Linked DNA regions of Homo sapiens: region 2 is linked to region 1. A link means that fine-mapping ties the variant in region 1 to the expression of a gene that starts in the linked region. Tissue or cell type: whole blood. Region 1 holds a variant in brackets; the other region holds the start of a gene. All regions are shown on one strand. Distances are between the middles of the regions.

Region 1 (4,166 bases):
AGAAAAAATGAAAGACCTAAACTTGATCTAAATTTTTACCTTAGAAGACTATAAAAAGAGCCAAATAAACCCAAAGAAAGTAGAGGAAAGAAATCATAAAAATAAGCAAAACATGAGCAAAACAGAACAGAGAAAACTAACAAAGCCAAAAGCTGATTTTTTAAAACATCAGCAGAACTGATACACACCTCATTAGACTGATCAAGGAAAGACAGGACCGACTGCCCATATGGGCAGTGAAAAAACTTTGGTTATCACTACAGATCCTACGGATATGAAGAAGACAGCCAATCAGAAAGGAAAGGGGGGTATTACTAAAGAGCCTACAAATATTAAAGGGATAAAAAGAACACCAACTTATGCCAACAGATTTACCACCACAGATAAAATGGAAAATTTCCTTTGAAGACACAAATAGACAAAGCTCATTCAATAAGAAAAAGAACTTGATATTCACTTAAGAAATTAAATTTATTATCTTCTCACAAGGAAAACTCCAGGCCTAGATGGTTTCCCTGGGAAACTATCAAACATTTAAGGAAGAAATAACACCAATCTTGTATAACCTCTATCAAAAAGAGGAAGGGGGAATATTCCAGTCCCTTTTAAGGGGCCAGCATAACTCTAATACCAAAACCTTATAAAGTCATTACCAAAAAAGAAAATGAGAGGTAAATATCTCTCATGAACATCAATGCAAAAAAAAAAAAAAAAAAAACTTACCAGCAACCTGAATCCAGCAATACACAAATAGGATAATATGACATGACCAAGTAGGGTTTATCCCTGGAATGCAAGGATAATTAAATATTTGAAAGCCAATCTAATTTATAATAGAATAGAGGATCATTTCGATAGATACAGGAAAAAAGCATTTGATGAAATTCTCTAACAGCACTCAGCAGACAGGAATAAAAGGGAACATACTCAACCTGATAAAGGTTATGTATGAAAAACTTAACAGCTCAGTGAAATACTAGAGCTTTTCCCCAAATATTGAGAGCAAAGCAAGGTGCCGATCCATACTACTGTTCTATAGTGTTCTCGGAGTCCCAGTCATTGCAATAAGGCAAAATTGAAGAGGAAAAGGCAGGCAGGCATACAAACAGATAAAGCATAAAGGTAGGAAAGAAGTAAAACTGTTTTCAGATGAGACTTTTTACATAGAAAGTTCTAAGAAATCTAGAAAACTACTGGAATAAGCTCACAAGACTGCAAAATACAAGGTTAGTATCCAAAAGTCAACTGTATTTTATATATTAACAAGTTTTTGAGAGAGAGTCTTACTTTGTCACCCAGGCTGAAGTGCAGTGGCACAGTCATGGCTCACTGCAGCCTTAAACTCTCAGGGTCAAGTGATACTCCCACCTCAGTTTCCTGAGTAGCTGGGATCACAGGCACATGCCACTGCATCCAGCTAATTTTTTTTTTCTTTTTACTTTTATAGAGACCCACCTTGGCTTCCCAAAGTGCTCGGATTACAGGTGTGAGGCACAACACCTGGCCAGAAATAAAATGTTTTTAAAACAGCAACTTCATTCATAATAGTGTGAGATAACTTTTGAAAAGATATGTAAGATCTCTACACTAAAAGTCTCAAAACCTTGCTGATAAAAATTAACGATTTGAATAAATGGAGAAATATGCCATATTGATGGATTAGAATACTCAATACTAACATTTTAATTCTGCCTATTGATTTATGGATTTGATGCAATACCATCCCAGCAGACAGCCACACCACAACCTAACCCAATGTTTTAAGTAGGTAAAGGACTTGAATAAACATTTTTCCAAAGATGATACACAGATGGCCAATAGCACATAAAGAGATATTCAACACTGGTCATTAGGGAAATGAAAATCAAACCCATGACCAGGTACCACTTCACACCTACTAGGATGGCTGTACCATTTTTTTAAATTTTTATCAGAAAGTAAGTGTTGGGAGAAGTGGAGAAATTGGAACCTTCATACGCTGCTAGTGGAATGTAAAATGACACAGCCGCTACGGAAGACGGTTTGGCAGTTCCTCAAAAAGTTAAATACAGAATTACCATATTGTCCAGCAACTCCACTCCTCTATAGATACCCAAAAGAATTGAGAGCAGGGACTCAAATATTTGGCCACCTATGTTCTTAGCAATATTATTCACCACCTTAGTAACCAAAAGATGGATGCAACCCAAGTATCCACCAACAGATAAACAGATAAAACAAAATGTGGAACATACACACAATGAAATATTATCCACTCATAGAAAAGAATGAGATTCTGATACATGCTGCAACGGGTGAACCTTGAAAACATGCTAAGTGAAATAAGCCAGACACAAAAGACCACATATTTTATGATTTCATTTATATTCAAATATCCAGAATAGATGAATCCATAGAGAGAGAATAGAGGTTATCAGAGGCTGGAAGTAGTGGGGGAATGGGAAGTTACTGTTTAATGAGTACAGA[AT/T]TTGTTCGCAATGAAACAGTTTTGTAACTAGCTAGTGGTGAGGGTTACACAACATTGTGAATATACTTAATGGAACTAAATTGTACACTTCAAAATGGCTAACATGGCAAATTTTATGTTTAAATTTTTTTAATCTGATAATGCCAGGTTTCTTAGAAGAGACTGGGCAGTATTGAGATGAATTTTATGTAAGCATAAGAGCTAATGTACAAAAATCACAAGCATTCTTATACACCAATAACAGAGAGCCAAATGATGAGTTGAATGCTCATTCACAATTGCTTCAAAGAGAATAAAATACCTAGGAATCCAACTTACAAGGGACGTGAAGGACCTCTTCAAGGAGAACTACAAACCACTGCTCAATGAAATAAAAGAGGATACAAACAAATGGAAGAACATTCCATGCTCATGGGTAGGAAGAATCAATATCATGCAAATGGCCATACTGCCCAAGGTAATTTATAGATTCAATGCCATCCCCATCAAGCTACCAATGACTTTCTTCACAGAATTGGAAAAAACTACTTTAAAGTTCATATGGAACCAAAAAAGAGCCCACATTGCCAAGTCAATCCTAAGCCAAAAGAACAAAGCTGGAGGCATCACGCTACCTGACTTCAAACTATACTACAAGGCTACAGTAACCAAAACAGCATGGTACTGGTACCAAAACAGAGATATAGACCAATGGAACAGAACAGAGCCCTCAGAAATAACACCGCATATCTACAACTATCTGATCTTTGACAAACCTGAGAAAAACAAGCAATGGGGAAAGGATTCCCTATTTAATAAATGGTGCTGGGAAAACTGGCTAGCCACATGTAGAAAGCTGAAACTGGATCCCTTCCTTACACCTTATACAAAAATTAATTCAAGATGGATTAAAGACTTAAACGTTAGACCTAAAACCATAAAAACCCTAGAAGAAAACCTAGGCATTACCCTTCAGGACATAGGCATGGGCAAGGACTTCATGTCTAAAACACCAAAAGCAATGGCAACAAAAGCCAAAATTGACAAATGGGATCTAATTAAACTAAAGAGCTTCTGCACAGCAAAAGAAACTACCATCAGAGTGAACAGGCAACCTACAAAATGGGAGAAAATTTTCGCAACCTACTCATCTGACAAAGGGCTAATATCCAGAATCTACAATGAACTCAAACAAATTTACAAGAAAAAAACAACCCCATCAAAAAGTGGGCCAAGGACGTGAACAGACACTTCTCAAAAGAAGACATTTATGCAGCCAAAAAACACATGAAAAAATGCTCACCATCACTGGCCATCAGAGAAATGCAAATGAAAACTACAATGAGATACCATCTCACACCAGTTAGAATGGCAATCATTAAAAAGTCAGGAAACAACAGGTGCTGGAGAGGATGTGCAGAAATAGGAACACTTTTTACACTGTTGGTGGGACTGTAAACTAGTTCAACCATTGTGGAAATCAGTGTGGTGATTCCTCAGGGATCTAGAACTAGAAATACCATTTGACCCAGCCATCCCATTACTGGGTATATACCCAAAGGACTATAAATCATGCTGCTATAAGGACACACGCACACGTATGTTTATTCCGGCACTATTCACAATAGCAAAGACTTGGAACCAACCCAAATGTCCAACAATGATAGACTGGATTAAGAAAATGTGGCACATATACACCATGGAATACTATGCAGCCATA
Region 2 (4,166 bases), 59 kb after region 1:
AACTGTTCCCTTAAAATCTTTTTACTCCGAGGTCAAAACTCTTGAGGCCTAATCACTGAAAGATCCCAACTACACACCAAGTATTAACAGGGTTTTCCCCCACTAGAAAAGCGAGAAGTGGAGGGATACAGACATACGCCTGTCAATCATTTTTTAGGTAGGTATGCCCCTCACATCTCTGGACATTAAGCACGTTTCCGGAAGTCTGAAGAGCCACAATTCTGACTCTTCCAGAAAGCACTTAGGCTCGATTCTCTCTTGCTCGTGAGTTCTTATGATTCCTCCGGCTCCCCACAAGCAAACGAATGGGAAATTCCCACAGGATAAGGTATTTTTAACACATCAAATAACAGTTTAAGAAAACGGTTTTTCTTTCATCACAAAATATTTCAAAGTCCCTCTGCTAAATAGCAAGTCGCTGAGAAGGCTTCGCTTCGCTCCAGACTCTGTGCCCCGCAGTTACTATCCCAGCACACAGGTCACAGCGATAGTCACTGTATCAGAATGCAGGACTCACTGCCGAACAAAATACAGAAAACTGCAGAGTCTGCATGGCTGCAACACACAAAGCCTTTAAAAACAAAAGAAAGCACGGGGAGCTCTGCCAGTAAAAATGAAGCTACCTAAATTGGACAAAGAATAGGACAAAGTGACAAGAAATGCTAAAGACGACTCTTAAGTAAATCACATATGGGGGAAATAATGGACATGTTGTGGTGTTCTGCGCTTCCTCCTCCACCAAAGGAGTCGAACCAAGAGGACTTGATGAAGCTTTTAGAGTTTTTAAAAAGGGAAGAAAAATCCAGGTTGCGGGGAAGGGCGGGGGTGGGGTGGTGCGGGTGGCGGGGGAGGGGCAAAATCCACAAAATTTAAGTCTTCTGAGAGCCAAACAGATTTTATTAATAAAAGGAGCCGAAGCTCTCGCTCAATGTGGGGAAGAGAAAGCAGCACCCATCAGCAGCCGGGCAGCCCTGGCTCGCCTCCGAGGGGCTCGGAATAGGTGCTGTCCCCGTCGCTGGGCTCGGAGCTCCGCCGCGCACACACGCCCCGCGCACCCCTGTCCGGTCCAGCCCGTGCAGCGCGAGGCCGGCTCTAGGGGAGCTGGGCCTGGGAGCCAGGGTCCTGCAGCACCTGGACCCTCGGACAGGAAGCGGCTCCTCTGACTGTGGCTCCTGAAAGGAGGCGAGCCCGGCAAAAAGAGCCAGCGGGGAGGGCAGCAGGCGACTGCGTGTAGAAGCGGGGGGCAGATGTGGGAAGGTGTGCTCGGGAAGGGGTGGGGGTAGTCCGGAGCTGCGCCTCCGCCGACAGAAGATGCTCCGGGCCAGCAGCCAGAGAAACGCCGCGGGTCACAGAGGGTGGAGGGCTTCAGGGAGCAGAGGAAGCCCAACAGCTGCAGCCGAGCGTCCAAAAAAAGGTGGAGGCGGGTCCCGAGCAGCCCAAACTGGGACGAGAGAGGGCGTGTGGGGGCGGGGAGGGGGTGCCCCAGCCCAGGGACCCGTTAGCCCTCCCGGCTGCCGGCCGAGGGCCTGGCGGCCTCTCCCCGGGCCCCCGAGCCACCGGGCAGGCCTACTCCGCTCGGAGGCTGCATGCCTCCCGCCGCCGGGCAGCAGCAGCCTCCCCGGGGCACGGCGGACCCGGTCCCTCCCGCCGCGTCCCCAGCGCTCGGGGCCAGCCCCGGCACCCTCCCATGAGCCCTTCCGGGCGCGGCCCCCGCTCCTCGGGCTCACGCGCGGCCAGCAGTCCTACCGGCTTCCAGCTCAGGGACCCGCCGCCGCCGCCGCCGCCGCCTGCGCGAAAGTCGGCGTCCCAGAAGCCGTTCTGGCTGCCGGCCGCCCGCCTTCCAGGCCGCGCCTGATCCGCCGCTCCCCCTGCCGGCCGGCAGCCATTTCCGACAGGCGACTGCGGAACTTGCCGAAGGGCGCCGCGCCGGAAATGGCCGAAGCCGGCGTTCGCGAGCGGGGGCGCGGACGCGGGCGCGCGCTCGCCACTTTCCCGACCGCGTCCGAAGACCGCCGAGGCCTCCCGCAGCTCCGCGGTGACACCCGGGTCAGGGGCGCGGGGCCGGGCGCCGGGGATTGTGGGAGGCGCGGGGGGGCGCGCCGGCCGCCTTCGGAGCCCCCCAACTCGCGTCCTGCAAAGGCCGCCGGGCCCTGTCGAGAAGACCCGACCGCAGATGGCGGGGAGGATGCTCCCGGCGGCGTGGGAACCGGGTCTGACTCCCGAGCCACCGCCGCTTCCGCAGGGGCGCCGGCCCCGGGAAAGTCAAGTCATAAATCCCTGAATCTAAAACTCCATTCTCAGAGAAAAGGCCTCCAAGGACGGGCGCCGTGCGCGGCAACTGCCTGCAGTTTTGAAGCCCTTTGACTATTTCATAACAAAGACAAGGCCGGGCGGCTTGGACGCTTAGGAAAATCCTGGGGCTTTGCAAAAACAACAGGTTAATCTAGTCGTGTGGGATGATCACCAAAACAAGACAGGAAAGAAGAACACCGTGTCAATGCTGAAAAGCCAGCCCCTGTGAGCCCCAAAGTGCACGTTTTCCACAGTCCCAAGGAACACGTGACTGTGTGTTTCCACACTTGAGAAGTCAGGATAAGACCCCTTGGATAATGGAACAGGGGATGGGGGTGGGAGCAAGCACCCTACCTGGTCACCTGCTTAACTTAGAAACCAGCTTTTAAAACCTGTAACTGCAGTATGAGCTACGATCAAATTTGTCTTAACGTATTTTTTTTAATGTTTTTAATACCCAGAACACAGGGCTTCTACTCCAGGGTTTCCTCGCCAGGGAACCCCAAACACACAGGACCTGGAGAAGCCGGGTAGAGCTGGCTCCTGGCCCTGCGCTTGGGTGGTCGGCTGCCTTAAGAAGAACTGCACCCCAGAGACAGGCTCGCAGCTGCCGACCTTATCCACTCGCCCTTTCTGCTGGAGCCCAGGCCCAGTGCTCCAGCAAGGAGGCTGAGAAAATGCTGAAGACTGATGCCCACGGGGGACAGCTTGGGCTAAGGATAACGTTTGCAAAACAAACCTTTAAAAACCCATAGCAACCTGTTTCCTAGAGCACACTCTTCATCTCTCCACCCCCAAACTAGTCCCGACTCGGATCCTCCTTTTCCTATCCTCTTTCTCTTGCTCTCCCGTCTCCTATTCACTTTTCTTCTCCTTTCCTCTTGATTATTATAAACAAATGCTTTCCAAGTCTTACCGCCATCATATGTGTACATATGCAACCCTTACTGTTACCAATTTGTTGAAGTCAAGACAGGAGGAGGCAAAGTTTAAAAATCAGAAGTATTGCAGGAAATGAAAATGGAGTGAGTGTTGCCTGGGTATCATAATTTTTTTTTTTTTTTTAACAGTTCCTCTACTTGGCTCTCCTCCAAAGGTACGCGGCCACAGCAGGCAGGGGCTTGGCAGTGTGGGAGGAGACACCACAGAAGACAGGGAAGAACTACCAGGCCTTGGTTCATCTCCACACTGGCGAGAGAGGACGTGCAGTTACCTGCTACCTGTTCGACTCAGTCTTTTACGTTGGAGTAACTTAACACATTGCTGCCCTTAACTTTGACTTACTTGCTTTTAAAGATGATGAAGCTGGCCAGGCGCCGTGACTCATACCTATAATCCCAGCATTTTGGGAGGCCCAGGCAGGTGGATCACGAGGTCAGCAGTTCAAGACCAGCCTGGCCAACATGGTGAAACCCTGTCTCTACCAAAAATACAAAAATTAGCTGGGCGTGGTGGCGCGTGCCTATAATCCCAGCTACTCAGGAGGCTGAGGCAGGAGAATCACTTGAACCCGGGAGGCAGAGGTTGCAGGGAGCCGAGATCGCACCACTGCACTCCAGCCTGGGCAATAGAGCAAGTCTCCATCTAGGGAACAACAACAACAAAAAGATTATGAAGCCTTAGGAAGAACAGGGATATTCACCTGCTGCTGAGCCCCCCTCCGCTTTGATCTTGTGAGTCTGCACTCTCCTGCTCCCCTGTCTCAGTCTCCTCTAGCTCCTGTTCCTTCTCCTACCTTGTGTTCTCTGCCAATGATATGACTGGGGCTACTTTCTTTTTTCCTTCTCACACTCTCTTCTTGCTAATTTCAACCAATTTCCCTGCATCATCTCCACCTGCAAGCTGGTCCTTTACAGCAGAGCTTGGGGCCCTGC

Evidence for each region. PIP is the estimated chance that this variant, and not a neighbour inherited with it, causes the effect.
Region 2: EXTL3 starts here. The variant in region 1 is fine-mapped to the expression of EXTL3 in whole blood (TOPMed, PIP above 0.99).

What each region holds. Positions count from the first base shown.
Region 1 is chr8:28,758,445-28,762,610 of GRCh38, reverse strand. No RefSeq gene overlaps it. Among named protein-coding and RNA genes, the nearest start is that of EXTL3, 59 kb to the right of the region's middle. The variant AT/T (reference allele first, on the strand shown) is at 2,467.
Region 2 is chr8:28,699,240-28,703,405 of GRCh38, reverse strand. It overlaps EXTL3 (exostosin like glycosyltransferase 3), which reads right to left and starts at 1,905. Exons shown (of 7, transcript NM_001440.4): 1 at 1,747-1,905. It overlaps EXTL3-AS1 (EXTL3 antisense RNA 1), which reads left to right and starts at 1,942. Exons shown (of 3, transcript NR_126027.1): 1 at 1,942-2,046; 2 at 3,363-3,965. RefSeq lists silencers at 1,337-1,746, 1,847-1,916, 1,987-2,166.